Homo sapiens: one gene and its partners. The protein of the gene in region 1 interacts with the protein of each later gene in a biochemical or structural test. Each region holds a gene or a part of one and is shown in the gene's direction. Other genes may lie near its edges.

Region 1 (4,490 bases):
ACTACTGATAAGATGTCTGTCCTTGTATTTTACCTTTTCCAGAATGTTACATAAATGGAGTCATACAGTAAGTAGGCTTTTGTGTCTGGCTTCAAGCCTTTACTTTTTATAAAGAATAACAATGGTAATAATTATAGCTGACATTTATTAAAGGCTGAGCGGATACTGTATACTGTGCTACAGGCTTTTCGTGGGTTATCTCATCACTGTTTCACATATGTAGGTATACAGTTCTTTCTTTAAAATATGTGACTGAAAAATATTATTGAACATTATGCTAAAATTTGTTACACTGAGAAGACTAAGAAAAACAGAGCTCATGTTTTCTTTCAACTGATTTCCTTTTTACATTGTACTTGAGTACCTGGAAGCTGCTTGCTTCTTTCCGCAGCTAGGATACAAACTCCCTGACAGTTAAGTGCTTCTTTACTTCCCATCCAGTGCCTTGCACAGGGCTTGGTACATGGTTTGGTCCAAAATATTTGTTGAATAAATTTGCAGATAGCCCACGTGTGTAGGAGAGGGAGAGAAGGTTCTTGAAAAATGGAGATTGGAGGAATCTAGGATGGGGAGGGAGATATGGGAAGGGCCCAGACAGAGGCAGGAGGGTTCCAACTTGTTCCTCTTCCCTGCAGCCCAGTGTTTCCCGGGCTCTTTGAGTTCTGCTCGCGTTACACAGGCGCATCTCTGCAAGGAGCAACCCAGCTGAACAACAAGGTGACATAGTCCCGAGTCCTGTTCTTCCTTTCCTCTGGATCCCTGGACTCGGGATTTAACCCTGATCCTGGGCTCCCAGCTTGAGGGGTGGGCAGGAAGGACTGTGACTTAGGTGTTTGTCTTTCAGATCTGTGATATTGCCATTAACTGGGCTGGTGGTCTGCACCATGCCAAGAAGTTTGAGGTGAGTGAGGAGGTGATGGGAAAGACAGTGGCCATCCTAGGGTAGGTGTTTAGGATGATGGTGGGGGGCAGCTGGGAGGGGAATTGCTCTTCTCTTTATGAGACCACTGTCTTGCCATAGGCCTCTGGCTTCTGCTATGTCAACGACATTGTGATTGGCATCCTGGAGCTGCTCAAGTAAGTAGCCCAGGAGGAGATGGGGGCAGTTACGGGATTCTTGGCTGAGGAGGTCTCTCAGTCTCAACCCTGACCTTGACCTCCCTCCTCCCTGATTAGCTTCTCCCAAGTTCTTGATGCTTTATTCAGGCTGCCTCTTCCACTGCTGCAGATTCCCTACTGCCTGCTCACATTTCAGCCTTCTCTGCATATCCCTCTCCTGTCCCTGCCTCTAGCCTCTAGGCTGGAGCCCCCAGTTGCCTTTAGGGAACTGGTGACATTAAGTTTCAGGTGACCAGGGCAGAAGCAGACTCTTCACAATTCGAGACCCGGTGTTTGAGAGGAGTGGGTTGGGGGGTTCACTTCTAGCTCAGACCCTGGCTTTGGCTTCCCTCTAGGTACCACCCTCGGGTGCTCTACATTGACATTGACATCCACCATGGTGACGGGGTTCAAGAAGCTTTCTACCTCACTGACCGGGTCATGACGGTGTCCTTCCACAAATACGGAAATTACTTCTTCCCTGGCACAGGTATGGGAATAGGGATTACTTTCCCCTTTGCACCCTTCAGCTCTTTACTATGAGTGCCTCCTTCTCAGCCTTCTAGTCTCATCTCAGGTGTCCCCTCCTCAGAGAAGCCTTTCCTTACCACTCCAGTTATCATAATCACCTCCTTCCCCATTCCTCTGTTACATCAGCCTCATTGTTTCCCTCAGAACACTCACTGCTATTTGTGTTTATTGTGGTTTTTTGTTTTGTTTTGTTTACTGCCTCCCTCCTCCTCATGGCTATTCCCTAAGAATATAAGCGTGGTGGGATATCGTAAATTTCATTAGTTCCATTCGTTGCTGCATCCCTACTGCCTAGTACACAGTTGGCTCAGAGTGGATCCCCCAAAACTATTTGCCCAATGAATGCAAGCTGCAAGAGATTTAGTGGCTCTAGGGAGTTTATGGTGAAGCTACATAGATGGAATGAGAGGCTCCCAGAGTGCAGATTGGGGCTGAAACAGCTGGGTTGTGGGTGCTTCCCATGTGTGGCTACCACCACCCACTTCCCTACAGGTGACATGTATGAAGTCGGGGCAGAGAGTGGCCGCTACTACTGTCTGAACGTGCCCCTGCGGGATGGCATTGATGACCAGAGTAAGTACCGAAGTCTTCCCTCTGTTCCCTAGGCCCCTTCTTTTTCTCCTTGAAATAACCTCTTCTGCCTGGTATTGTCTGCTGTTGGGCCAGTTGTCCTTAAGGATGAATGGCCTTCAGAGGGACCATGAATCTCTGGAAATTGTATGCAACATATCATGTGTATGTGCATTTTTCTGGGAAAAGTCATTGGCTTTCATCAGTCACTCATAGCAGTCTGGGATCCCTTCCAGAAGTTTCAGACCAGTGATTTGATTCTTTTGGGTGGCCCCTTTCCTGGGCTACATGCTCGCTCAACCCCCTTTTTCCTTTTGTTCCCTGTCTCCCCATCCCCTTGGGGTGCCAGGTGCCCATCTTTGGCCCTCTCCCAGGTTACAAGCACCTTTTCCAGCCGGTTATCAACCAGGTAGTGGACTTCTACCAACCCACGTGCATTGTGCTCCAGGTAATACTGTCAGTTCCTCCTCAGGAGTGTTCTGCCTGGGCTTGGGGAAAGAGAGCAAGGGAAGAGGAGGTTCTTTAGGTTGGTGGTGGAAGGGGTATCTGTGATGTTCTGATCAGTTCTGATCACTGCACTTTCCTGGGGTTTTGCTTTTTGCAGTGTGGAGCTGACTCTCTGGGCTGTGATCGATTGGGCTGCTTTAACCTCAGCATCCGAGGGCATGGGTGAGACTTGCTCTCCTTCTTCTCCCCAAGGTTTTTAAGTGGCCTTGGACTTCAGTACGTGGGTGGGGGTAGTTGGGGAATGGGCCTCACCTCTTCTTGGAAATCAAAAATAGCTACAAATTGTACTTGAACTAGAAATGTCATCTTGAACAGGGTTCCCTAGATGGTCATTCATTCACGATATATTTTTATTAAGCACCTGTTATGTTCCAGGCATCATACCACATCATGGGGATGGAATAAGGAGTCTCCCATGGAGTTTACAGTTTAGGAAACAGACAAAAAATAAATAATCAAATGAAATAAATAGATTCTTATAAATTCTGTGAAAGAAAAAAAGAAAGCTGAGACACAGGATACAATGGGGGACCTACTTGAGATAGCATGGTTTCGGAAAGTTTTTCTGAGGAAGTAAAATTTGAGTTGAGACCTGGAGACTAAGAAGGAGTGAGTCATAAGAGGAGCAGAGAGAAGCCTGACCCAAGCATGGACAAAGGCCCACAAAAGGCTCTGAGGGCTGGGCCCAGTGGCACACACCTATAATCCCAACACTTCCAGAGGCCAAGGTGGGAGAATCGCCTGAGGCTAGGAGTTTGAGGCCAGCCTGGGCAACATAGTGAGAGCCATCTCTACAGAAAATAAAAAACAAAATCAGCTGGGCATGATGGTGCATGCCTATAGTCCTAGCTACTCAGGAAGCTGAGGCAGGAGGATCACTTGAGCCTAGGAGTTTGAGGTTACAGTGAACTATGATTGTGCCACTGGACTTCAGTCTGTTGAGGTGAGGTCCGAGAAGCTGGCCATGGTGAGATTGTGCAGAGCCTTTAAACCCTGGTAAGGAGTTTGAATTATATTCCAAAGATGATGGGAAACCATTGAAGGATTTTAAGCAGGAAAGTGACATGATCCAATTTGTGTTTGAAAGTGACAATTCTGACTGCTGAATAGAGAAAGGTTTGGGTAGGGGGGATGGAGATGGAAGTAGAAAGACCAGTTAGGAAGCCATGGTGTTGGTTAGGTGCCCAGACTAAGGTGGAGGGGGTGGCAATGGAGAGAAGTAGATGATCTGAGAGGTGTGTGTGTGTGTGTGTGTATATATATATATATACACACACACACACACATATATATGTTTTTTTTTTTCTTTTTTGAGATGGAGTCTTGCTCTGTCACCCAGGCTGGAGTGCAGTGGCACGATCTTGGCTCAGTGCAAGCTCTGCCTCCTGGGTTCAAGCATTTCTCCTGCCTCAGCCTCCTGAGTAGCTGGGACTACTACAAAGGCGTGAGCACCGCGCCGGGCGTGAGTTATATTTTCAAGGCTAGAATTGACAGAACTTGGGTTGATGAGAATAGTTGATTAGCAGGCAGGGTGCCAGGGAGGGTGTTGAGCAGAACAGAGGGGGGACTGTGCTTTATTTTAAAATTTTTATTGAGACACAGCATATAAAGTATACCCAAATCTTAAGGGTATAACATAATGAATTTCACTATCAAGATAAAGATTTAGAACATTTATAGTTTTCTTGTGCTCCTTTCAGGCAATACCTAAAGGTATTTACCTTGTCTTTTGATAACCTCCTCCACATCTTCCTCTGGTTCCTTTTAACAGGGAATGCGTTGAA
Region 2 (3,623 bases), on another chromosome or scaffold:
AGAGCAGGAGCAGTTCCACAGCTCCCAGCCTTCTGTGAGAGGTGCAGATGGCCATTTGCACCCTTGTCACCCAGTTTGTGCTCAAGGTGTGGCCAGGCCAGTTACTTCCCTGGCTTTCCCCATCTGGGATCGAGTTGTGTTCAGCATCCTGCTGCCTCTTTCCCCCTCTGAGCTGTGGGCAGCCATAAGTGATAGCTCCATTCCTTCTCCCAGAGTCCAGATGCCTGTCCAGCCTCCAAGCAAAGACACAGAAGAGATGGAAGCAGAGGGTGATTCTGCTGCTGAGATGAATGGGGAGGAGGAAGAGAGTGAGGAGGAGCGGAGCGGCAGCCAGACAGAGTCAGAAGAGGAGAGCTCCGGTGAGCCCCTACACACACAGACACACACACACACACACAGAGCCCCTACACACACACATGCACACACACAGCCCCTACACACAAGCATGCACGCACATGCACATACAGCGCCTACACACAAGCACATACACAGACCCTGCACACAAGCGCACACACGCACACACAGCCCCTACACACAAGCACGCACACACAGCCCCTACACACAAGCACGTATGCACACACACAGCCCCTTCACACAAGTACACGTGCACACAGCCCCTTCACACAAGCACGCACGCATATGCACACACAGCCCCTACACACAAGCACACACGCACACACACAGCCCCTTCACACAAGCATGTACGCGCACACACACACAGGCCCTACACACAGGCATGCATGCACACACACACATGCAGGACGCACATGCACACATGCGGGTACCCACCACTCCTCCCCAGAGCTAGCCCTTACTGGCCTCTTGTCCCAGAGATGGATGATGAGGACTATGAGCGACGCCGCAGCGAGTGTGTCAGTGAGATGCTGGACCTAGAGAAGCAGTTCTCGGAGCTAAAGGAGAAGTGAGCGTGGGGACACCTTGGGCTGGGTCTGCGAGGATCTGGGATGAGGAGGTGGTGGGCCTGGTACTGGGCAGGCGTGGTTGGTGCCCAGGAAGTGCGCGCCTAACACCGGGCTTGCTGTGGAATGGGTGCTGGGTATGTGTTTGCCCAAGAGCGATGGGTGAGCAAATGGGTGCACGGCTGCCTTTTTACCACGCAGGTTGTTCAGGGAACGACTGAGTCAGCTGCGGTTGCGGCTGGAGGAAGTGGGGGCTGAGAGAGCCCCTGAATACACGGAGCCCCTTGGGGGGCTGCAGCGGAGCCTCAAGATTCGCATTCAGGTGGCAGGTCTGTGGGTGGTTCTGTACCCTCTTCCCCTCCCAGAACCCGTGGCACCCTGTCCCCTTCCTCTCTCGTTCCTGCCCGGCCTTGCCCTTTGCTCTCAGCCCTCCTATGTGGGCACCGGGCTCCCCAGCCAAGCAGGGACCCTCCTCCCTTTCTCTGCAGGGATCTACAAGGGCTTCTGTCTGGATGTGATCAGGAATAAGTACGAATGTGAGCTGCAGGGAGCCAAACAGCACCTGGAGGTGGGCCTGATTGGGCACACTGGGGGTGAGGCAGGGCACAAAGCCTGAAGTGGCCTCACCCCATCCGTCCTGCTGAGCTATTGCCCCCTCTTCCAGAGTGAGAAGCTGCTGCTCTATGACACGCTGCAGGGGGAGCTGCAGGAGCGGATCCAGAGGCTGGAGGAGGACCGCCAGAGCCTGGACCTCAGCTCTGGTAAGCGCGAGAGCCTGGGCACCCCGGAACTGGGCCCCGCTCAGTCCACGCCCACCCCTCTTTGGGCTTCAGATGTCCTGAAGTCAAGGGGACAGCCAGAGGACCTGCCTGTTGGGGTCAGTGTGAGGGCTGAAGGAGACCAGGCCTGGAAAGGGCCTGGCACATAATGGGGGCTCAAGCAGAGTGGGTCTCCCTGCCTCTTCTGCCCCTGCTCTTTCCAAAACAGGTATCAGTGTGACATGCAGTCACATGCAATAGCTCTAGTCCCCTCCATGTTCATAGTACCTGTGTTCACGTGGAGTCCTGGGGTGGCAGGAATTGTCGTCATCCCACTCTCCACTAAACAGATGAGGCTCACAGAAGTGCAGTGACCTCTTCCCAGGGTTGTGCAGCTGTGCAGGCAGGACCTGAACAGCCCTAAGGGGCTTCTACCCCAAGCCCAGGGTGGTGATGGGACAGGGGAGATGAGGCCAGGCCGGCCCATGGTGGAGGCAGAGGCTACAGAAAAGGGAGTATCCTGTGGGCCAGCACCCCAATTCTAACTCTGGGTCTCGGGGCAGAATGGTGGGATGACAAACTGCACGCCAGAGGCAGCTCCAGGTCTTGGGACTCCCTGCCGCCCAGCAAGAGGAAGAAGGCACCTCTGGTTTCTGGTATCCTTTCACCCAAGGTGGCCTAAAAGTGGGCAGGATGTAAGGGTCAACTCCAGACCCAGGGGAGGGGGTTGGAGGGGACATGGAGGACAGTCACACTAGATGCACTCGTGGTTGCTTGGTGTCATGTGAATATGTCCAGGCAAATCCAGCTGTCAGCAGTTTCTTACGGGGTCCTGGGTCTCTCTGGGCTATGTGAACCCTAGGAAAACAGAAACGGGCTGGGCTCCGTGGCTCACATCTACAGTCCCAGCACTTTGGGAGGCCAAGGCGGGTAGATTGCTCGGGCCCAGGAGTTCTTTTCGAGACCAGCTTGGGCAACATGGTGAAACCCATCTCTAGAAAAAATAACAAAAATTAGCCAGGCGTGGTGGTGTGCACCTATAGTCCCAGCTACTCTGAAGGCTGAGGTAAGAGGATTGCTTGAGCCTGAGAGATCAAGGCTGCAGTGAGCCGTGATGGTGCCACTGCACTTGAGCCTGAGTGAGGTTTGGCCTTTGAGGCCTTTCCATCTCCCGGGGTTGTCCGAGCGGGTCCCCAGCTTTCCCTGGGGAGCCTTTGCTCATATCCCACCCTCCTCTTGGAAGTCCTGCCTGTCCCGACTGTCCAGGGCTCATCTCAAACGTTACCTCCTCTGTGAGGCCTCTTCTGGTCTTACCCTGGTGCCTATGGCTTCACTTTCCTGTGTGCTTCTGTGCCCTACCATGGGGTACCCACATCCCAGAGGGCACTGGCTGCCTCCACCCCTTCCTAGGCAGGGCTAGCTTAAGCTTAGTCCAGGGCCTGCTGTGCTTTCATCTGTCCTGGCAGAGCTGAGTCCTCCTGCACCCCTGAGGGTATTCCTGCAGCAGCCAGTCTTAGTCATTATGGCAACCTGGTGCTGGAGAGCAGGCCCAGGCAGGGAGGGAGGAATCTGGAAGGCCATGACTTGAGTGAATGGAAGGTGAAGGCATGGAGACATCAAGTAGGGAGCACTGGGGGAGGGAGAGTTGTCTCTGAAGGGATAAGCCCTGCGTCTGTCTTTGGATCAGGGAAGGGGCCAGGTTAGGGCCAGTGCTGCAGAGTGAGATGGGATGGGCCTCAGCCAGCTGACCTAAGACGAGGTGAGGGTGAGCAAGGGACAGGGAACAACATTTGGTGTCCTCCATAGACTTGGTTCCAGGACGACCCCTGGAACCAGGGGGTTAAGAGGTAGGAGGTGGAACCTGACCTCGGACCCAGGTCCTCAGCTCCCACTCCATGCTGTCCGCTGTACCCCCACTCCTGAATGTCAGGTGGGTGGCCCTGCC
Region 3 (4,490 bases), on another chromosome or scaffold:
TCATCTCAATTTTGTAAATGATGTTATATTACATAGTCAGAAATATATATATTGGCAAAATTAGTTACCAGTATAAGCTTCAAAATGTCACTATTTTCACAAATTTTTTTTTTTTTTTTTTTTTTTGACATGGAGTCTCACTCTGTCGCCAGGCTGGAGTGCAGTGGCATGATCTTGGCTCACTGCAACCTCTGCCTCCCAGGTTCAAGTGATTCTCCTGCCTCAGCCTCCTGAGTAGCTGGGATTACAGGCGTTTGCCACCATGCCTAGCTAATTTTTGTATTTTTAGTAGAGACGAGGTTTCACCATGTTGGCCAGGATGGTCTCGATCTCTTGACCTCATTATCCCTCCACCTTGGCTTCCCAAAGTGCTGGGATTACAGGCGTGAGCCACTGAGCCCGGCCTAGTTAAATAAAATTTGATAAACACGATGGACTTGGTTGTGTGTTTTCTGGTTTTTCTGAGATCTAGTTTGAAAATTCTGACAACTAGCAAAGTATATGGAAGCTTCTTCAGGAAATAGTAAACATATTTCTTTTTACAGCCTAATAGTCCCAGTGAATATTGTTTTTATGTGGATAGTGATATGGTCAATGAATTCAAGTTGGAATTGGTAGAAAAACTTTTTGCTGAAGACACAGAAGCAAAGAACCCATTTTCTACTCAGGTATATGAACTTATTTGTTTTATATTAAATTTCATTAATTTTTAGTCTGAAGTGACTTTGAGTTTCACTTGTTTTTTATTTATAAGGTGTGGCCATTGTAAAAACTCATGTATTTGCTGTTTTAAAGGACACAGATTTAGACTTGGAGATGTTAGCTCCCTATATCCCAATGGATGATGACTTCCAGTTACGTTCCTTCGATCAGTTGTCACCATTAGAAAGCAGTTCCGCAAGCCCTGAAAGCGCAAGTCCTCAAAGCACAGTTACAGTATTCCAGCAGACTCAAATACAAGAACCTACTGCTAATGCCACCACTACCACTGCCACCACTGATGAATTAAAAACAGTGACAAAAGACCGTATGGAAGACATTAAAATATTGATTGCATCTCCATCTCCTACCCACATACATAAAGAAACTACTAGTGCCACATCATCACCATATAGAGATACTCAAAGTCGGACAGCCTCACCAAACAGAGCAGGAAAAGGAGTCATAGAACAGACAGAAAAATCTCATCCAAGAAGCCCTAACGTGTTATCTGTCGCTTTGAGTCAAAGGTATTTATATGTAACATTCAAGTTATAGTTCTTTTATTATTTTTGAGATAAATGTATGTGATAGTACATGATTTTTAAACTTATAGCAAACTTTCTGATATATATGCCCTAACGCAAATTCTTGAGAACTCAAAAAACTTTCTAAATTAACCTCATATATTTTTTCTTTTTCTTTCTTTTTTTTTTTTTTGAGACAGAGTCTCGCTTTGTCGCCCAGGCTGGAGTGCAATGGCATGGCACCATCTCAGCTCACGGCAACCTCTGCCTCCTGGGTGCAAGAGATTCTCCTGCCTCAGCCTCCCGAGTAGCTGGGATTACAGGCATGCACCACCACGCCCGGCTGATTTTTTTGGTATTTTTCATAGAGACAGGGTTTCTCCACGTTGGTCAGGCTGGTCTCAAACTCCCGACTTCAGGTGATCCGCCTGCCTCAGCCTCCGAAAGAGCTGGGATTACAGGTGTGAGCCACCATGCCCGCTCCTATTTTTTCTAAAATAATTATAAATTCTAAAATTACCTATCTAAATGGAGGAGGGTCTTCTGACACCTTTAAAATAAAATCCAGCTCAGTACTGTAAATGTGTTTACAGAACTTGTTTAAAGTTCTTACAGTTGTTTAAATCAGACTAGTTAACTACCCTCACTACTTAGATGCTTCCATTTCTTAGAGCTCTTTTTTAAGCTTATCTGAAGAAAAGCCCTTCCAATTTAAGGGTTATTTCCAATTGCACATTCCAAATTGAGCCTTCCATCTTCAGCATTCAATATAGATATTTACAGGCCCCTCTTTTAAAATTTTATTATAGTTAACTTGTATTAAAGTTGCTTTTATTTTTCATTACGTATTTGTAGAACATTAGCTATATATATATTGCAGGCTACATAGGTTTTCAAACTGTACAACAGGAATCTAAGCATGAATTGTTACTTCTATGGAGCTAGTTCAAACAAACATATGGACATGACCCAATTTTTAAGTTATACTTTCTGTATATAATTTGTAAGGGGATTTCACATATTTTAAGTTTGAGGCTATAGCTAGAAGAAATTAAGTTTTATCTAATAAGTGTGTGGAAAAGGGAAATGATTCCTTCTCTACTATGTCTAGACTAAGCCAGATATCAATAGCAATAGGAAAGAACCACTGTCGTAGCCAGAACACATAGCTTTTTTCCCTGCCTAACATTCCCACCTTGACCTAGAGTGCTGGGAGAGGTCTTTTCCCTAAGCTTGGAAAAGACATTGGGGCTTTAGATGAACTCAGAAGTACTTTACATTACTTTATTTACTGTGTCACTTACTCACTTTTGACTCTGAGCTCCACGAGGGCAATCACAGTGTCTTGGGCATTTTAGTGATACTAATACTTAGCTCATGACCTAATGTGTAGTACTTCCTCAATAAATGGTTGTTGAGGCAGGGCGCAGTGGCTCATCACTGTAATCTCAGCACTTTGGGAGGCTGAAGCGGGTGGATCACCTGAGGCCAAGAGTTTCAGACCAGCCTGGCCAACATGGTGAAACCCGGTCTACTAAAAATGCAAAAATTAGCTGGGCGTGGTGGCACGTGCCTGTAATCCCAGCTACTTTGGGAGGTTGAGGCAGGAGAATTGCTTGAACCCTGGAGGTGGAGGCTGCAGTGAGCCGAGATCGTGCCATTGCACTCCAGCCTGGGCGAGAAGAGTGAAACTCGGTTTCAAAAAAAAAAAAAAAAAAAAAAGTTGTTGGACTGACAGATGCATGAATACAGTAGTAAAAATGACAATCACTTATAAGTTACAGTTTACTATCAGCTACAGAGGATGGGATATCCAGTTTTCTGAACAACTGTTCTCTTGTACTTGTCAAAGCCAAAGTGTAACAACACATCAAGTCACTTTAGCAATTTATTTTTGAGACGGAGTTTTGCTCTTGTTGCCCAGGCTGGAGTGCAATGGCGTGATCTCGGATCTTGGCTCACCGCAACTGCCGCCTCGCTGGTTCAAGCAAATCTCGTGCCTCAGCCTCCCGAGTAGCTGGGATTACAGGCATGCACCACCACACCCAGCTAATTTTGTATTTTTAGTAGAGACAGTGTTTCTCCAGGTTGATCAGGCTGGTCTCAAACTCCCGACCTCAGGTGATCCACCTGCCTCAGCCTCCCAAAGTGCTGGGATGACAGTTGTGAGCCACTGTGCCCAGCTAGCAACTGTTTTTAAACATTAGTTCCAATGTAGTGTACACTGAAAACTTTTATGAAAGGAATTTCAAAAATTAAGATAAACCATTAAAAACGTAATTACTAAGTACTACTACTACTACAATGATATTTACATAATAGACTGAGTTACATTTCATAAAGACAATATATCTGTATAAGAATTTTTAAACTTCCCTGTCTATATAATAGAAGTTTTAGAGAAATTTTTTAAAAACCAAAGAAAACTGCAAAATAAGATCACTTACCTATTTGGCATTCTCAACTGTCTGGAACAGCAAGGAGCCATTATGATTATGCATTTGGTTTGTGGGGTGTCTTGAAAAGTCAAAATAATGTAACAAAGCTGATGTACTTTACTCATTAGAACAATTCTTCACAATTTAATATTAATTTTAGATATACATAGTTCATGTTTGATAACCAGATCAATACTGAGTGAAAAATAGCATAGTGGGAAGAGCAGGGGAGGGGAGGTAGGGATCTGGAGACCTAGAGTGTACTTCCATATTGCAACTAGTGAGCAGTAGGACTTTGAGAAAGTTACCCAATAGGCCTCAGGGTTCTAATTTATAAAATGGGTATGATATGCCTGCCTTATCTGTCTTGGGAACTTAAGTAAGGTTAAAATGAACTAATGAACTTGAAATGTTTTATAAACTGAAAATGCTATACGAATGTGAGATTGATCTTGTATTTCAATAGTCCCAACAATATCACTGCATTGTTATATTAGGTGGAATAAAAGGACAATATTTAACTGTTTTGACTCTACAATAGTGTCAATTTAGTTGTGTTCAGCTCTATTTTATAAAATAGGGATACGCATACTGTAGAAAATTTCCTGTTAAATTAAGCTTTGACGGCCAGGTGCTCACGCCTGTAATCCCAGCACTTTGGGAGGCCAAGGTGGGCAGATCACTTGCGCTCAGGAGTTTGAGACCAGCCTGAGCAACATAGTGAAATCCTGTCTCTACAAAAATATGTATATATAAATTAGTCATAATCCCAGCTACTTGAGAGGCTGAGGTGGGAGGATCACTTGATTCCAGAGGCAGGGCTTGG
Region 4 (4,221 bases), on another chromosome or scaffold:
ATTGACAAACAAGAATGCATCTCTTCCATTCCAGTGTGGAAAACAGGCCCGGATTCGCAGCAGTGGAACTGCGGCTGCGCAATTACTACTATGACGTGGTGAACTAACCGCTCCCGCACCTGTCGGTGGCTGCCTTTGATCACAGGAGCAATCACAGGAAAATGTATCCAGAGGAATTGATTGTCAGCCACCTCCCTCTGCCAGTCGGGAGAGCCAGGCTTGGATGGAACATGCCCACAACTTGTCACCCAAAGCCTGTCCCAGGACTCACCCTCCACAAAGCAAAGGCAGTCCCGGGAGAAAAGACGGATGGCAGGATCCAAGGGGCTAGCTGGATTTGTTTGTTTTCTTGTCTGTGTGATTTTCATACAGGTTATTTTTACGATCTGTTTCCAAATCCCTTTCATGTCTTTCCACTTCTCTGGGTCCCGGGGTGCATTTGTTACTCATCGGGCCCAGGGACATTGCAGAGTGGCCTAGAGCACTCTCACCCCAAGCGGCCTTTTCCAAATGCCCAAGGATGCCTTAGCATGTGACTCCTGAAGGGAAGGCAAAGGCAGAGGAATTTGGCTGCTTCTACGGCCATGAGACTGATCCCTGGCCACTGAAAAGCTTTCCTGACAATAAAAATGTTTTGAGGCTTTAAAAAGAAAATCAAGTTTGACCAGTGCAGTTTCTAAGCATGTAGCCAGTTAAGGAAAGAAAGAAAGAAAAAAAAAAAAGGCCTGGATACTGCTTTTGCTGTCTCTGTTATGAGATGGAAGACTTACATGTTTGTGATAAAAGGGGACCATGAGAATGAATTGGCTTGGCTTACTTTCCCCCTGAAATCCTCTCTCCTGCAGACTGTCTTGAAGACCTGGTGACTGGTAAATAAAGCCCTGCATGGAGGCTGCACAGCAGGGGCAAGAGGCCCATCCCCCAGCATCTCACTGAGGACAGCTTCAGGCTGCCTTCCTCTGAACGTGGTCCACACCTTCCTCTCCTCCACAGAGAGGGTGCCGCCAGAATCCCCTGTCGCTTTCTGTGTCTGCAATGGGGGGCAGCACAGGGATCAAAGCCATCTAAAGAGTTTCCAAAGAAAGTATTAATTCAGAACAAGCCAAAGACCCTGAGCCTCACCACAAACAGGCCTTTTGGAGTGTGAATTTGAGTTGAAGATACAAGATCGGAGAATGATTTTCTGGTCTTAACTAATCCTCATCTTCATGTTTGATCTTTAAGAAGTCATCACCCATTGATTTCAGTTTTGCTGTACCTCTTGAAAGTTAAAGAGACATCTCAGCACTTTAGGAGGCCGAGGCGGGTGGATCACTTGAGGTAAGGAGTTTGAGACTAGCCTGGCCAATATGGTAAAACCCCATCTCTACTAAAAATACAAAAATTAGCCGGGCATGGTGGCATGTGTCTGTAGTCCCAGCTACTCGGGAGGCTGAGGCAGGAGAATCGCTTGAACCCAGGAAACGGAGGTCGCAGTGAGCCAAGATCATGCCACTGCACTCCAGCTTGGGCATCACAGCGAGACTCTGTCAAAACAAACAAACAAAAAAACAACTTAAAGAGGTAATTTAGCCATCATTCTTATGCCAGCAGATATAAATAAACTTGGACCCATCTGGTCTTCAGCTAAACCTGAGACATTTTAAAGTGCATGGACAGCCATGGACAGCAGGCCCTCCTCTAACAGGGGATGCAAGGCATGGAGAAAGACAATCAGTACCCAAGCTCAGCCACAGAAGACAGGAGTCACTCATATAACTTGTGTTTAGAAGTTTTTGGTAGCCACGCACACTTTCTGAAATCACACTATCTGGTGGTTTAATCATATTTTTAAAGACAGAATCCCTGAGTGCTGAGCAGATTCTCAAAACACATTTAGAATCCCTGAAATTAGAAAGATCAATGACAAAATATCTGTCAGCCAGGCCACAAACAGGTGTAAAATTATGAAAGGAGTGGTTGGATGTGCCAAGTTTGGTAAAGTGGTGACTGCATCTGAGAAAGAGGCTGTGAGGCTGAACTCTTGGTGGCTTCCTTCTGTAACTTCCAGAGGGAGTCTTCAACACAGGCCCCGTGCTCGTAGGAATACGGTAGCACCTATGTAGGAAGTGCGTGGAGTTTTCTGTCTTCTTTCTGTGTGATTTTTGGCCTTTTTATCAGCACTTCTCCCCTCCCAGGAGCCTGGGGATGCCAAACATCCAGAATGTGATGGGACAAGATGGGGGCAGGGGCCTCACCTCCCTGCAGAGGTCCGGCCAGGTCTCCTTGTCCCTGGACAATCTCCTGAGCCTCTCTGCTTGGTGGAGCAGGCACCTGTGTGCAGAATTCCCACTGTGGCCAGCACGAGGAAGTCTTTTCTAGTGAAAATGTGTCTTGTGGTCAGGAATAATTATCCTTTCCCCTGTAGCCACCAAGGAGGGCAAATAGAGAAAGGTAACCTAATTGAAGGATTGGTCATGTGAAAAGGGCTACATTTGGGAAGCTGGGAAAGGCCTCCAGGCTTCTAGAGCAGCTAGCTTGGGCTGGATTCTCATACCCAGGCTGCCCCTTGGATTGTTCTACCCAAGCTTTTCCCTGGGGTCTGGGCTCACTCCATAAGGTAAGGTGCCTTTTACCTTATGGTCCTTCTTTAGCAGGTAACAAAGGAGCATCAGGGGCAGGCTGCCCTGGTGGCATCACACTGGCTAGTGAGGCCGTGAATATCTTGTCCCCCAGCAGGGCCGACAGTTTCTATCACAGAAAACAGTGTGTTCAGTGGTGAAAATCGTTGCATGCATGTTTTCATCTGAGCGTGTCCTTCTCCCATACTCCCTATCAGCCAGCCCTGCCTGTAGCTGCTGTATGGTGATTGCACTTGGACATCAGTCCAATGACTGCAAGTCGGCCTGGATTTTCACTTGCAGAGGCTACAGCTGCATTGTCAGGTCTCCCAGCCCTGCAGAGAGCTCCCTCCACTGGTTAGCAGTGTGTTGTGTTTTCCATTCATTTCAGAAGAGCTACATTGTGTCACTGGACATTTTTAAAAACTGTGATTTTTAATAAAAATTTAAAATTTGCTTTGTGATGATTTTCATGGAAGTTATTAGGATGTGGTAAGTCACACTGTCAAATAGTGTCAAGCAGCATTGTCAAAGGGGTAGCTAAATGTTTTCTAAAACATTAAGTCCCTGCCATGTCCCAAAAAAGTGAATGTGTTGGCCGGGTGCAGTGGCTCATGCCTGTAATCCCAGCAGTTTGGGAGCCCAAGGCAGGAGGATCTCTTGAGCCCAGAGTTTGAGACCAGCCTGGACAACATAGTAAGACTTTAGCTCTGCAGAAATCAAAACATTAGCCGGGTGTGGTGGTATGCACCTGTAGTCCCAGCTACTTGGGAGGCTGGGGCAGGAAGATTGCTTGAGCCTGGGAGGTCGAGGCTGAAATGAGCTGTGATGGCACCACTGCACTCCCAGCTGGGTGACAGAGCAAGATCCTATCTCAAAAAAAAAAGTGGATGTGCACAGGTCAAAGTTGACTGTGAGATTCCACCACACAGAACGGCGGGGAGGCCCATCAGGGAGGGCCCTGTCCTGCCCTGCCTCTATCTTTTATTCATGAGCAGAGCATCTACCCAGCCAGGGCCTGACAGCCCATGGCCTGCCTAATAAAAGACAGACTGAGGAGACCCAGAAATCCCCCATCAGGCCAAAGCAGGGCTGTGGGTTTTGAGCTATCCCTTTCTCTATGAAGACAGCCTAAAAGGAACTGCGGTAGGCAAAGAAAGGATTCCAGAGCCCCAATTTCTGCCTGTTCTAAGGAGGTTACACACATGCGCAGACATGCACACATATACATCCACATGCACACATGCATTCACACATGCACAGAAGGCATGCACACGTGTACATATGCACACATGCATATATGTCAGTGCATACATGTATATGCACACATGTACATACACATGTGCATGGGCACAAATGCATGCATTTACATGAACACATGCATCCACACACATAAGCACATGCACAAATGTACACATGCATTCACACATGTGCACACATGTGCATGCATGTACATACACCTGTACCCACATGCACACATATACATACACATATGCAGAGACGGGCACACATACATACACATGCACACAAATACACAGAACATGCATGCACCACACAGTACACATATACACATACCAAACACATACCACATACACCTTCACACACCACACACATACATACA
Region 5 (4,490 bases), on another chromosome or scaffold:
TCTGACTTCTGCTTCTGTATACTAGTCTAAAAAAATTCAAACAAGATGCTAGTTTCACTCTCTGTTCCTTTAAACTATTCACTCCAAATAAAGATTATGATCTTAGTGGCAGCGATTAACCCAGGATCATAAGGAAGGACGAGTGTGCTTACCTAACAGCAGGCCATGGGTTTCTGGCCTGGCCCTCTTTCCCCTTCATCTAGTCTCCCCAGGGCTCCCTAGTGTGGATCTACACCCAGATACTGGCTGGGAGGCAGGACAGGTGCTGGGAGTGAAGAGGAAATAACAGTGGAAGCAAAGCAGAGGCATCCGTTTACTAGTGTCAACTGCTGTTTTGGGGGCTCCTGTCTGCAATGTGAGGTCAAGTGATGCAATAATGCTTGGGAATAGCTTTGAATGCTCTTTAAAGAGAGTTGTATAAGGTTTTATAGGTATGGAATGTATTTGAATTACATTTTAGGTTTGATGTCAGCATTGCTCAATGCTTTTCATATCTTTTCCTTTTGTGTTAAAACTGTACAGAGTTATTGTACAGAGTTCCCAATCCTTAGACTCATTTACGTATTCATTTATCCATCCAACCATGCACTGACATTTTTTTTTTCATTTTAGCCTCTTACAATGTACTAGGTTCCAAGAGGGATATGAGAGGAAAACATATTCTTTACCATCCAAAGCTGACTTTATAGTTGGAGAAAACAGACTAAGAAACAGCTAATAATTCAATAAGGGAGTGAGTAAGGGTCCAAAAGAGTGATATAGAAAATAAATGCTATTGGAACGGAAGTAAAATAGGAAATTAAATAATAGAGCTGTTGGGAAGGGGGCAGCCAAAACGTTTAAAAGGGGGAGAAGATTCTTGGTTACCAGGGGAGAGCAGCTCCACATAGGTCTTGTGTATTACATGTTCCAATAGAAAGAACTCTGAGAGGGGTTAATAAAACGTCCTTCGGATTTATTTGAGATTTGTTGAAGCAATAACTCCTACCATTTAAAAGGCCCCAATGAAGCTTTGAAGTTAACACCTCATTGCTGAGAAGTACAATGGCTTTTCATTCTGTACCTTTATCCCCTCACATAAAGTGGGCAGAGGACTCTGAATATGCCAGCATATGTTCAGTCTGGATTCAAGGCCCCCCTTCCTTTTTTCTGCCCTGACCTGCCTGCTCTGCTGGGATGTGTGAATGTACTGCACAGAGGCCAAGAGGACATGGGGCATGGGGTTTCCCAGCTGACAGCCCCAATGGCAAGTACCCGGTCTGTTATTTTGGTCAAATTCCAATTTCTTTTTTGTTCTAGAGATCTCCTTACCCATTTTCCGTCAACCAACCATATTTATTGGGGGCCTAGTCAATGAGAAAATGTATGTTAAAGTAAAGGCCTTCAAATGTCAAACAGGTGTGACTGTTATGAAGTTCTGAAGGGGAGGCAAAGAAGTATCAGACACTTCTCTACCCTCCACAGCTCACTCTCAGTGGGAGCCAAACGTGACTCAGGATAAGCAGCATTCGAAAACAGTGTGTGAAAGATGCCACAGGGAGGATTCCCGGCCCTGAAAATTGAAGATCAGACATTCTGTTTGATTCCCTCTTATCTTGGTTTCACACACTTTCCACTTGAAGACCCAAGAAACCTAGTTGGGTAAAGAGAGGCTATTTCCTTTTCCCTCATAGACCTTGGGAGGAGGGGCAAGATGTTTTAATTTTTATTAGTGATTTTATTTTTATTTGTGCTCCATGGAAATGTTATTAATATATTCTTTCCTGTGTATATTAGGTTGTGAAAAATTGCTGCTGCCGCTGCTGTTACTATTTTAATGAGCAAAGTTCTTGCAGCTCTTTTTATGACAGCTACATTTGTTTGCAAGCTGTTTGGCTTTGGCTAGGGGTGTAGACAGCAGTTTTGGAATGAAATGCATCTGTAGGAAGCCAGCAGGTCCTAAGGGGATCATACCCTTGACCTTGGTCTCATTCACATGTTGCCCTGAGCAACCAAACTAATTGCCCATTATTTAGCAGATTAGATCAACAAGGCCTAAAAGAGTTATTAATAATATCCCAAAGATAGGAACTCTCACTGGGGCAACACTTAGGCAGTAGAAGAGTCAATTTAAGTATTTTGAGATATTTTGAGTATTTTTCATTTAGGCAAATCAACTTCTAAGATAGCAGGTGTGTATGTGTATGTAGATAGACCTGTGATCATGTTAACCAAATTCCTTAAGGGTAACTAAGATAGCATATCCTTTGTTAGAAGTCAAAGAGGTCTGTCTAGCTGTGGCTGTGATTTTGTGATATTGAGTAAATGGCTTCTTTTCTCTAGATACCAGCTTTCCTATTTGTCAAACAGGGGTTAGATTTGCATTACCTAAGCAGCAAATTAAGAGTTTAGACTTTTCCATCAGAGTTCCTCAACCAGCATAAAGGAGTATTTGAGTACCTTGGGGGATCTCGGATCATAGCCTAAAGCTTTACAAGAGCAAAATTTTGTTGAAGTCATTTTTTATTTATCTAAAAATTCACATAAATGTTGCACTCTCCTCCACATCATATTCATGTTTATTGTATAGTGTATTATTTTCCCCAAGTTGAGTAAAACCAACCCATCAGGAAAATGCACGATGATTATCTTGGGCTTCTAGTAACTCCTGGCAGTCCCCCAGGAAGATGTAGGCACATACCATTTTGAAACTCTTCGCACCAAGTGATCTAGTGTTGGCTATAGCACTCTCAACTTCTCCACTGTTCAGCAAAGCCTAATAGCCGAATGTACTTTGTATATGGAGGAGATAACATGGATAACAGCAAAAAGAATGGACTTGTGCAAGTTGTTCCTTGCTATTTTAAAAAGGTCCCCAAACCACCTTTGGCTTTATCTATCCAGTAAGTTGTAGTCATGAGTTTTAAACTGGCTCTTGGGAGCTCTGAGCGTACCAGGCATATCACTGGGGGAGTGGCTGAGCTTTGGTTTTATATTTAGAAAATCAGATTGGGGTTGCACTGCTTTTAGAACTCTAGGCCTTCATAATATGGACTCTTAATAAGTCAAACTTATATTTTGCTTACTTTAGTTGATGTAACATCCAGTTAGTTCTATGTTGGTAAGTTTGTGGCTACAATGTGGTTGGTGACACAAGGATGACTAGTTTAGGATACAATGTCAAAATAGCCCAAGCAGGGGTTCTAAAAGAAAACCTGAGTTCATGTACAAAACAGACATTGGAAGCACAGACACAACCTTATTCAATGAAAGAAAATTTAAGGATATTATTTGCTTCTGTAACTATTATTATTTAAAAATTTGAAGATTAGGAAGGAGTTTATAGTCTTTCTTTTAAGTTTAGGATTTCTCCCACCACCTTATCATGATTATTTTATAAGGGATCTCGTATGGTACTAGAGCAAATTGTTACTATTTCTTCCTAGAGAACATGTTGCAAAATGTTTCAGGAACATTTCTTGGTAACATAAAGTGACTAAGCAAATTCCAGAAAATTCTATTGTTTGTAAGTTGAAAAATCATCCTATAATCCCTTTCAAGTCAACATTAGCGCTCTTTATCAAGAAAGAGTCCATTCTCAAGACATTAAGACTCAAATGCCTAGAAGTGATTGGTTAAAATACTGTAAACCTAGCGGAAATTTGTTGCATTGTTTTCTATAAACCATAACCAGAGCTCATTAATTGAAAAACAAATGTCATTTTGTGTTAGCTAGCATCTATAAACCAAAAAGGTACAGTGATCCTGGCATGTGATGGGCAATAAAAACATCAGCAAAATGTATCAGGTAAAATTGAGAGGAAGGAGTGGGGAGGGGTAAATTCAAAACCATATTGGAGTTTACTGCCAGGGCCCCACATAAAGAGTTTTAATGAGGCTTCTGCATCAAAATAAGTGAAACCATACGGAATTGTAATTATTACTGCAGTGTATTTTAAGTACAGATACACCTAAGAAGCAGTTTTTACATTAACATGTCTATCTGTGTGAACTCCATACTTCTGCAGGGGGCACACGTTGGCGTTTTAAGTGCGACTTCTTTCTGATACACGCTGTTCACATTATTCTGGTTCTTCTTATATGATCTAAATATTGAACTTAATGCATACAGAAGTGCCCTGCCCATCGCTGTTAGTTCTGCCAGCTCAAGGTCACCTGGATGCCCTGCAATGCAGAGGCTGCCTGAGGAACGTCTGTGGCCTCCATTTGGCCTCTGTATTGTACGAGGCAGGGCACAAGCACTGGGCGGGGGAAATGTTATGGAGCATCTGCTCCCATTTCTGATTCTGTCATAATCGCTGTTTCCACATTTTTAAATTTAAGCTTGTCAGAATTTCGTTTTTGGGAGGAATAGGTAGAGGCTAGTTGAGGATGGAAGAATTTATAAAAAGCAGAGAGTGACTGCCTGGGCTGTCAGTTTTGGTTCTTCATCTTGAAAGTGTTTGCTTCTGGCCTTAGAAGCTGCTCACTAGCTTTTACCCTCTGCTTAT
Region 6 (5,102 bases), on another chromosome or scaffold:
GCCGCTTCCCCTCTGGGCCTGGGACTGTCCTCCACCGGCGGCTCCCTCCAGGGGGGCTTCCCTTGCCCCCGCCGAGCTCTGAAGGTGCCTCTCCTGGAAGATGGCCTCCAGGCCCTGACGCCACCCGAAACTCCTCAGTGATCACTCCCTTGCAGTGCCACGACCCCACACTGTCCCCAGTAGGCACATGGGCGGGACCTCTAATGCCTGGGCAGGCAGGGGGTTCCCGGGGCAGGTCAGCTCAGTGATGAGAGGGGCCCGTTTCCACCGCCCCCCGCCCCCACCCCCACCCCACACGCCCGCCTGACCTGCTGAGCGGCCGGGGCCTGCAGCGAGGCCGCGAGGATTGCGGGCGGACGCCTGGGGGAAGCCTGACACCTCCCCACCTCCATGTCCCCCACCCTAGGGGCGAGAACGGAGCCGCCCAGTCCACGGGGAGGCGCAGGGGCGGGGCCGGTCGCCATGGGAACCCGACTCCCGCCCCGCCCGGCCGCGGCGCAGACAAAGGCCGCTCCCCTCCCCCGGCGGCCGCGGCCGCGGTTCCCACAGCTCCGGGGCTGCGCTCCGGCCTCCTCCTCCTTTAGCTGAAGCTCCATTAACTCTGCACAAAACCTCGGCCCGCCTCGGCCGGGCCCAGTGAAAGGCGCTCCCGGGCGGGGGCCCTCGGGGAGGCTGCCCGTGTCCTCGCCCCAACCCAGCCCGAGCGAGGAGAGGGGCCATCCCCGGGCCCGCGCCAGGCCCCCAGCCGGATGCCGGCTTCCAATGGGGAAACTGAGGCACGGGGCTTGGTCATGCAAAAGGGGCCGGAGCGGCTGGGACTGAGACCCGTTCCTTCGCCGCGGTCCGCATGGGTCCGGTGGCCAGCACCGTGCTGGCTGTTTTAATTTGGTTGCCGATATATAAAAATCAGATTTGACATTAAAACTCGGATTTTAGTGTTTTAAAAAAGGAGTGTTTTGGGCCACTGGGATCCTGATTTCTCACTTCGCTGGAGGGGGTCGCCCAGCCGCGAAGCCTCCCACCACGGCTCTACCAGGGCGGAGGTCGGTGGCCGGTGTTCCAGGGAGCAATGCTCCGCCGAGCCCCGGTCGCTTTCAAGTGGGAATAAAAGTAGCTGTGCGGCCCCGAGCGCGGCAGAGACGCCGAGTGGGGCGCTGCCCCCGTCACCGCCAAGGCAGCCCCCCGCGCCTGCCCGCCCGCGGGGCTGACTTCAAGGACCCTGCACCCAAAGGCGGCTCCTCGGACCTGGGATAGTCAGGGTGGGCTTCCTAGAAGAGGTGGCCGCTAAGGAGGAGGAAAGGTTCTGGGCAGCAAAAAGGATCCGTTTGGGGCCGCTGCTTGTGGGTAGGAAGGCCCCGGGGTGACGCCGCTGTCCCTGGTCCTGACAGTCCAGCGGTCGCGCCTCTCTCAGAGGGGAGGTCAGGGCGAGCCGGGGCAGGAGGCCTGGAAGGTTCCCGGGGCGCACCGCGGACCAAGGCCTGCAGGTCCTGCGCAAGAAAGCCAGGCCGGCCCTGTCCCAACGCCTTTCGGCTTATTTTCCTATCCAGTGCCGAGTCTTTAGAAGGTGCTATTCATATTTCTGTCTTGAAAAATACTTCCCATGGTTTACCCCTGGCTTCTTCGCTTTTGACGGTTCTCCCTCGTTGGGGAGGGCGCCGCCGGGGTAGGGAAGCCCGGGCCGAGCCCAGACGCGGGCGCAAGTCTGGAGAAGCGCGCGGCCCCCAAGAGGTGAGAGCCGGAGGGAGGTGTCCGCCCTCGGCGCCCCCCCCGGGAAGGGGAGGGCTGGTTTCCGCTCTGCCACCGCCTCCGAGGCGCAGGAAGCAGCGCATTTGTCTCCGGGAACCCCCCCACGCCCCGGCCACCCAGCCCGGGAAATCCGCCCGGGCCTCCCGGCCCCGCCCCGGAGCCCCGCCCCGCCCGCCGCCGCCGCCGCCTCCGCCGCCCTCCGCTCCGCTCGGCTCGGGCTCGGCTCGGGCGCGGGCGCGGGGCGCGGGGCTGGGCCCGGGCGGAGCGGCGGCTGCTCCGGACATGTCGGGCCCTCGCGCCGGCTTCTACCGGCAGGAGCTGAACAAGACCGTGTGGGAGGTGCCGCAGCGGCTGCAGGGGCTGCGCCCGGTGGGCTCCGGCGCCTACGGCTCCGTCTGGTAGGGGCGGGGCAGAAGGGGTGCTGGGTGGGGGCCGGGCCGGGCCGGAGAGCGCGTCCCCTCCTCGCCCGCGCGAGGTTCTCGGCGTGGGGAGGGGCCTCGCCCTGCCTCCGCCCCCGGGCGCCAAGCGGATCTGAGGAATGAATGGGGGGGCGGGGGTGGCGGCGTAAAGAAACTTTCCAAGCAGACGCCGTTACCGGGAGGGAGGGGGGTCCTCCGGCCTCTCCCGATTCGGACTGCTCCCCACCAGGCCTGAGGCCTGGGAGGTCACAGCTGGCGTGAGGGTGGGTCTCACGCGACCGAGCCCCGAGCCACCCTGATGTCCGGGCCCCTAAACGTCTGAGCACCCACCTGAGATTCACTGAGTCGGGTCAGGCAGCCCCCCGGGGTCTAGCGGATGACCCTCCCCCGCCCGGGCTGGGGGCTATTGTCTGAAAAGGGAAGCCCCGCTCCCGGAAGCCAAGATCTCTCCCCCTGGGATGGCCTCAGACTCCCCCTCAGACCACAAACCCCACTTAGGCCCTGGGGCCAGAGGACCTGGCCTGGGGCCCAGGAAGACGACAGAGTCTGGGTGGGGGAGGGGGGTCAACTGGGCCAAGGTCTCTGTTAGACCCGGGTAGCCAGGGCTGGAGGGGCTTAGGGTGAGGTAGTTACCGGGAGTCCTAAGTTTCAGCCTCCATGTTGACTGGGAGGCTGATCATGGGTACAGGCTTTGAGAGGTGCAGCTGAGTCCTCACCATGGCCAATGCCGCTTAGCTGCTGCCCACTGGGGGGTCCTGGTGGGGCGCAAAGGCAGAGGCAGCCAGGGCAGAGCTCTGCCCCAGGCACTTGCAGGTTGGAAGTGGGACCTCTAGGCCCACCAGATTTGGAGCTCAGGAGCCGGCATCAGGGGCCGGGGGTCCCAGGGCAGGCTGTCTTCTGGTGTGGTCCCTAGCCTTCCATCAGAAGCTGTAGGTGGGTCATTCTAGCCATCATGCCAGCACAGATCTGTCTTCCTCTTTGAGACCTGAAGGGCAGGAAGAGGGTCTGGGACGGTGTGGGAGTGGCCATAGGGGACTAGGGTGGGTCATGGCTGGACTCGCCGTCTGGGAGTTGCTGAGAGGTGTCCGGTTCTCTGAGTGAGGCCTGGTCTCCCCCCTTGCACCCCTGGCCCATTTTCTTAGTTCCACTGCCAAGGCTGCGGGCCAGGTGCCAATTCCCTGTCACCTGACCGCACAGATGCAATTGGCCAAAAGAACTTGCTGCCCCACGTGCAGGGCCACTCCCCTCACCACCTCAGGAGCACCTTTCCCTGGTCATAGGCTGGGAGCATGGCTGCCCCAGGCACCTCGACCTGCGCCCATGAGCATCCCAGACCCAGCAGGAGCCGCTCCTGCTCCCCTTGTGTGGGCATGGGGGGTGGCCTCAGCCTCCACTTGCTCTGAGACAGGATCCCAAGAGACAGAAGTGGGAGGGAGAGAAGAAGCAAGTATCAGCCAGAGGGAACAGGCTGTGCAAAGGCCTTTCCTTTAGCAGGGCTGAGGGCAGTGGGACATGGGAGGGTGGGATGAGGGTCACCTGCAAAGGGAGGGTGGGCTCAGGAAGCTGGTGCAGGGTAGAGGGTCTGGACCTCTGGGAAGTGGGGCTGGGCGAAGGGCTGTTCTGTGGGTCCAGCTGACGCCCTCAGCTGTACATCACCTTCTGTCCCGGTTTTGTTCCAAATAATGATGCAATAAACACCTCTGACCAACTTTCCCTCCGTATTTTGAACATTCGGAGGCACCAGGGGTCCAGGGGCTTTGAGGTGGCTCTAGAATCCCCCTCTGTGAGCCTCCTGGGCCCATGGGGTCTATGGGGCAGAGGGAGGCCCGTCTGCTGCAGGTGAATGCCAGTGACTGTTTTCCTGCTGTGTTTTTCCACGCTGGATGGGGCACCTCTCCCCCAGCCTTGCTTTGAATGGGGGCCCCTGGTTGAGCGTGGGAATCAGTGGGGCCAGGGGACAGAGAAGGTCCAGGACCTTGTGGGGTGAACACACGCATGGTGGTCCAGCCCCAGGGGCTCCTTCCCAGCAAGCGCGGAGTGGGTAGGCCCGAGGGTGGGAGGCCGAGCTGGGGCGGCGGGGCCGGGGCAGAAAAGCCCCACGGCCCCATCCCCACGGAGAAGCGGCGAGAGGGACGCCGCCCGGGTCCACGCGCGTGCGGCCGCCCTCGGACCCCTCCCGGCGCCGCCTCACTCGCCCGCCTTCCAGTTCGGCCTACGACGCCCGGCTGCGCCAGAAGGTGGCGGTGAAGAAGCTGTCGCGCCCCTTCCAGTCGCTGATCCACGCGCGCAGAACGTACCGGGAGCTGCGGCTGCTCAAGCACCTGAAGCACGAGAACGTGAGCCGGGGGAGGGCCGTGGGGGGAGGGCGCGTGCGGGGGCGGGGCCGCGGCGCAGCCAATAGGCGGGCGAGCCCTGGCGATGGGGGCGGGGACACAGGGGGCGCGGCCTGGCACTGGGGGCGTGGCCCGGGGGGAGCTGAACGACAGCCGGGGGTTCGTCGCCCGGCCCTGACGCCCCCCGCCACCTAGGTCATCGGGCTTCTGGACGTCTTCACGCCGGCCACGTCCATCGAGGACTTCAGCGAAGTGTGAGCGGCGGGGCGGGCGAGGCAGCGGGGAGCGCGTTCGCGGTGGGGCGGTGGGGCCCTGTCCTGACCCCCTGACCCCGCCCCAGGTACTTGGTGACCACCCTGATGGGCGCCGACCTGAACAACATCGTCAAGTGCCAGGCGCTGAGCGACGAGCACGTTCAATTCCTGGTTTACCAGCTGCTGCGCGGGCTGAAGGTGGGGCGCCCTGGGCTTCGCGGGTCCTCTCGCAGGGGGGCGGGCGGGCCGGGCCCGGCGCTCACCACAATCCCCCTCCCGCAGTACATCCACTCGGCCGGGATCATCCACCGGGTAGGTGCGACCGCAGGGTGAGGGTCGGGTCCAGCAGG
Region 7 (4,490 bases), on another chromosome or scaffold:
AATATGAGGAAGTTGATCAACTGCCGCTGCCTTCCAAAAACAGATTAATCCACCTTGGTAGCTTTCCTTTCAGAGCAAGCTTTTGGCTCTGTCGACTTTCTCTATCAGCCTGAACTCAAAAGGACACAGGCCACATGCCATCTGAGCTTAAGAGTTATTTTGTGTGTTGATCTGAGAACTTCACATTTTAAAACAATGAATTCATGTTTCTACTGTTTGTTGCTGTCTGTGGATTTGCTGATATAAAGAGGAGAGTCCTAGCCTGGTCATTTAATGAATAATTCTAAGGAACCTGAACTTCTCCAGGGTGCCCTTCTACATCTGCAGTGGTGGTTCTCAGCTGGGGTGACTTTGCTTCCGTCACCCCACCCGCAGGATATCTGGCAATGTCTGGAGACATTCTGAGTTGTCACAAGAGGGGCGGGCGATGCTACTAACACCTAATGGGTAAAGCAGAGATGCTGCCACACATCCTACGATGAACGAGACAGCCCCCTCCACCCCAGCAAATCATGATCTGGCCCAAAATGTCAACAGTGTCAACAGTTGAGAAACTCTGATCTACAGATATAGGGAACCCTGCCTAATACACAAATCCTCCGTAGTTCCCAAGGGCGGCCTGTAGGTAAGAAAAATGCAGAGAGAGCCAGTGAACCACAGGACAGCCCTAAAGCCAGTTGGTGAAACTGTAAATCCATAATCCTAACAAAATAATGTACAGTCGTAACAAAGTGAGTTTTAGAGACAAAGCTTTACAATTTCTGGTAAAATTTCCACATGTGCAAAAAACAGAGTAGATAAATCAAGGTCCTACATCTACTTGTGTTAACAAACTAGTGAAGTGCATAATAGAGAATACCAGGTGAACTCAAGGCAGTACTGTTTCTAAAATTGTGGAACTAGTATGAAAGTAGATATGGAGAGGAGGAGTGGTAATGGTATTCCCTGACATTCGCTCAGCAGTTGCTACTGAGCCATGCATTCGCTTAAATACTAGGAAATTATCAATTTTTCAACTGTCGAAGGCCTATAAAAATGGCAATTTTCTATCATTCAACCTAAATACTATGTGTAATGTATTATTATATATTAATATTGTTAGGATATATATTATGTATAACATATTGTGTTAGTAGTAACATATTTGTGCATCCTTTACATTAGTGTCAAATTATCATCTGCTATATTAATATCACAGATTAATTTATATTATTGGTATATTAATATATTGATCAAATAGAGGGTCAGCAAACTTTTTTCTGTAAGGGGCCAGAGAATAAATATTTTAGGGCTGGGCACGGTGGTTCATGCCTGTAATCCCAGCACTTTGGGAGGCTGAGGCAGGTGGATCACTTGAGGTCAGGAATTCGAGACCTGCCTAGCCAACGTGGTGAAATCTCATCTCCACTAAAAATACAAAAATTGGCCAGGCCTGGTGGCGGGCGCCTGTAATCCCAGCTACTCGGGAGGCTGAGGCAGTAGAATTGCTTGAGCCCAGGAGGTGGTGGGTGCAGTGAGCCGAGATCACACCACTGCACTCCAGCCTTGGTGACAGAGCGAGACTTTGTCTCCAAAAAAAAAAAAAAGAATAAATATTTGCTCTGTGGCTCCTGCAGTCCCTATACTGACCACCTGACTTTACAGTAGTGGCTCTAAAGCAACCACAGGCAGTACATGAAAGAATGAGTGAGGATGTGTTCCGAAGTATGGATGGACACTGAAGTTTGAATTTCCTGTCATTTTAACAGGTCAGGAAGTATTCTTTTTTGGATTTTTTTTTCAACCATTTAAAAAATGTAAAATGCATTCTTACCTCCTGGGACATGCAAAAATGCCAGATTTGGCTGGCAGGCTGCAGTTTGCCAACCCTAGGATTATATCAACATTTTATATACGTTATACATATTATAGTATATACTATTGCACATTATATCTATACTATACATATTATGCTATACTACATCATTTCATATATCATGTCATATTACATTACATGATATTCTATATTACCGTATTATATTACTGTATATTATACCATCCTCCTGGGCAGTAGCAGCCTCCTGATCCCCGTCCTCCTGGGCATAGCATCCTGGGTGACCTCATCTTTTTGGGTGGCAGATTCTGGGTAGAAACCCTCTCCCTAGGCAGCAGCATCCTCAGTAGCCCCCATCCTCCCAGGTGGTAGCAATCCTGTGTGGTTCCAATCTTCCTGGGCGGTAAATTCTGATAGAAACCCATCTCCCTGGACAGTAGCATCCTGGGTGTCCCCCGTCCTCCTAGGCGGTAGCATCCTGGGTGGTCTCCATCCTCCCAGGTGGTGTCATCCTGGGTGGTCTCCGTCCTCTCAGGAGGTGGCATCCTGAGTGGTCCCCGACCTCCTGGGCATAGCATCATGGGTAGTCCCCATCCTCTTGGGAGGTGACATGCTGGGTGATCCTCGTCATCTCAGGAGGTGGCATCCTGGGTGGTCCCTGTCCCCCTGGGTATAGCATCCTGGGTAATCCTCGTCCTCTTGGGAGTAGCATCCCGGGTGGTCCCCGTCCTCCCCAGCAGTAGCATCCTGGGTGGCTTCCCATCCTCCTAGGCGGTATCATCCTGGGTAGCCCCCTGGGGCAGAGGGAAGAGCTGTGGCCTCCGCAACCTCCTACTCACTTCCGCTCCGTTCTCTTGCCCGCCCTGCAGCGGCACCCGACCTGACAGCGTTCAGCGACCCGCGCCAGTTCCCCGCGCTGCCCTCCATCTCCGACCCCCGCATGCACTATCCAGGCGCCTTCACCTACTCCCCGACGCCGGTCACCTCGGGCATCGGCATCGGCATGTCGGCCATGGGCTCGGCCACGCGCTACCACACCTACCTGCCGCCGCCCTACCCCGGCTCGTCGCAAGCGCAGGGAGGCCCGTTCCAAGCCAGCTCGCCCTCCTACCACCTGTACTACGGCGCCTCGGCCGGCTCCTACCAGTTCTCCATGGTGGGCGGCGAGCGCTCGCCGCCGCGCATCCTGCCGCCCTGCACCAACGCCTCCACCGGCTCCGCGCTGCTCAACCCCAGCCTCCCGAACCAGAGCGACGTGGTGGAGGCCGAGGGCAGCCACAGCAACTCCCCCACCAACATGGCGCCCTCCGCGCGCCTGGAGGAGGCCGTGTGGAGGCCCTACTGAGGCGCCAGGCCTGGCCCGGCTGGGCCCCGCGGGCCGCCGCCTTCGCCTCCGGGCGCGCGGGCCTCCTGTTCGCGACAAGCCCGCCGGGATCCCGGGCCCTGGGCCCGGCCACCGTCCTGGGGCCGAGGGCGCCCGACGGCCAGGATCTCGCTGTAGGTCAGGCCCGCGCAGCCTCCTGCGCCCAGAAGCCCACGCCGCCGCCGTCTGCTGGCGCCCCGGCCCTCGCGGAGGTGTCCGAGGCGACGCACCTCGAGGGTGTCCGCCGGCCCCAGCACCCAGGGGACGCGCTGGAAAGCAAACAGGAAGATTCCCGGAGGGAAACTGTGAATGCTTCTGATTTAGCAATGCTGTGAATAAAAAGAAAGATTTTATACCCTTGACTTAACTTTTTAACCAAGTTGTTTATTCCAAAGAGTGTGGAATTTTGGTTGGGGTGGGGGGAGAGGAGGGATGCAACTCGCCCTGTTTGGCATCTAATTCTTATTTTTAATTTTTCCGCACCTTATCAATTGCAAAATGCGTATTTGCATTTGGGTGGTTTTTATTTTTATATACGTTTATATAAATATATATAAATTGAGCTTGCTTCTTTCTTGCTTTGACCATGGAAAGAAATATGATTCCCTTTTCTTTAAGTTTTATTTAACTTTTCTTTTGGACTTTTGGGTAGTTGTTTTTTTTTGTTTTGTTTTGTTTTTTTGAGAAACAGCTACAGCTTTGGGTCATTTTTAACTACTGTATTCCCACAAGGAATCCCCAGATATTTATGTATCTTGATGTTCAGACATTTATGTGTTGATAATTTTTTAATTATTTAAATGTACTTATATTAAGAAAAATATCAAGTACTACATTTTCTTTTGTTCTTGATAGTAGCCAAAGTTAAATGTATCACATTGAAGAAGGCTAGAAAAAAAGAATGAGTAATGTGATCGCTTGGTTATCCAGAAGTATTGTTTACATTAAACTCCCTTTCATGTTAATCAAACAAGTGAGTAGCTCACGCAGCAACGTTTTTAATAGGATTTTTAGACACTGAGGGTCACTCCAAGGATCAGAAGTATGGAATTTTCTGCCAGGCTCAACAAGGGTCTCATATCTAACTTCCTCCTTAAAACAGAGAAGGTCAATCTAGTTCCAGAGGGTTGAGGCAGGTGCCAATAATTACATCTTTGGAGAGGATTTGATTTCTGCCCAGGGATTTGCTCACCCCAAGGTCATCTGATAATTTCACAGATGCTGTGTAACAGAACACAGCCAAAGTAAACTGTGTAGGGGAGCCACATTTACATAGGAACCAAATCAATGAATTTAGGGGTTACGATTATAGCA

The links.
Region 2: the proteins of HDAC3 (region 1) and BRMS1 form a complex in vitro, tested with the Homo sapiens proteins (one study listed by BioGRID).
Region 3: the proteins of HDAC3 (region 1) and HIF1A form a complex in vitro, tested with the Homo sapiens proteins (2 studies listed by BioGRID).
Region 4: the proteins of HDAC3 (region 1) and SYK form a complex in vitro, tested with the Homo sapiens proteins (one study listed by BioGRID).
Region 5: the proteins of HDAC3 (region 1) and RUNX2 form a complex in vitro, tested with the Homo sapiens proteins (one study listed by BioGRID).
Region 6: the proteins of HDAC3 (region 1) and MAPK11 form a complex in vitro, tested with the Homo sapiens proteins (one study listed by BioGRID).
Region 7: the proteins of HDAC3 (region 1) and RUNX1 form a complex in vitro, tested with the Homo sapiens proteins (one study listed by BioGRID).

What each region holds. Positions count from the first base shown.
Region 1 is NC_000005.10:141,626,271-141,630,760, reverse strand, and holds part of HDAC3 (histone deacetylase 3), read left to right. Parts: intron 1-635; coding exon 636-717; intron 718-844; coding exon 845-901; intron 902-1,021; coding exon 1,022-1,077; intron 1,078-1,454; coding exon 1,455-1,588; intron 1,589-2,121; coding exon 2,122-2,202; intron 2,203-2,548; exon of another isoform or gene 2,549-2,573; coding exon 2,574-2,647; intron 2,648-2,803; coding exon 2,804-2,868; intron 2,869-4,477; coding exon 4,478-4,490. UniProt on the Homo sapiens protein: Histone deacetylase that catalyzes the deacetylation of lysine residues on the N-terminal part of the core histones (H2A, H2B, H3 and H4), and some other non-histone substrates.
Region 2 is NC_000011.10:66,338,832-66,342,454, reverse strand, and holds part of BRMS1 (breast cancer metastasis-suppressor 1), read left to right. Parts: intron 1-213; 5' UTR 214-220; coding exon 221-359; intron 360-831; coding exon 832-922; intron 923-1,121; coding exon 1,122-1,249; intron 1,250-1,408; coding exon 1,409-1,488; intron 1,489-1,584; coding exon 1,585-1,681; intron 1,682-2,241; coding exon 2,242-2,334; intron 2,335-3,623. UniProt on the Homo sapiens protein: Transcriptional repressor. Down-regulates transcription activation by NF-kappa-B by promoting the deacetylation of RELA at 'Lys-310'. Promotes HDAC1 binding to promoter regions.
Region 3 is NC_000014.9:61,739,960-61,744,449, forward strand, and holds part of HIF1A (hypoxia-inducible factor 1-alpha), read left to right. Parts: intron 1-545; coding exon 546-668; intron 669-795; coding exon 796-1,229; intron 1,230-4,490.
Region 4 is NC_000009.12:90,895,494-90,899,714, forward strand, and holds the end of SYK (tyrosine-protein kinase SYK), read left to right. Parts: intron 1-34; coding exon 35-107; 3' UTR 108-3,056; downstream 3,057-4,221. UniProt on the Homo sapiens protein: Non-receptor tyrosine kinase which mediates signal transduction downstream of a variety of transmembrane receptors including classical immunoreceptors like the B-cell receptor (BCR).
Region 5 is NC_000006.12:45,540,573-45,545,062, forward strand, and holds part of RUNX2 (runt-related transcription factor 2), read left to right. Parts: intron 1-4,490. UniProt on the Homo sapiens protein: Transcription factor involved in osteoblastic differentiation and skeletal morphogenesis. Essential for the maturation of osteoblasts and both intramembranous and endochondral ossification.
Region 6 is NC_000022.11:50,267,219-50,272,320, reverse strand, and holds the start of MAPK11 (mitogen-activated protein kinase 11), read left to right. Parts: upstream 1-1,940; 5' UTR 1,941-2,028; coding exon 2,029-2,144; intron 2,145-4,371; coding exon 4,372-4,501; intron 4,502-4,693; coding exon 4,694-4,752; intron 4,753-4,838; coding exon 4,839-4,950; intron 4,951-5,034; coding exon 5,035-5,064; intron 5,065-5,102. UniProt on the Homo sapiens protein: Serine/threonine kinase which acts as an essential component of the MAP kinase signal transduction pathway.
Region 7 is NC_000021.9:34,790,803-34,795,292, reverse strand, and holds part of RUNX1 (runt-related transcription factor 1), read left to right. Parts: intron 1-2,682; coding exon 2,683-3,158; 3' UTR 3,159-4,490.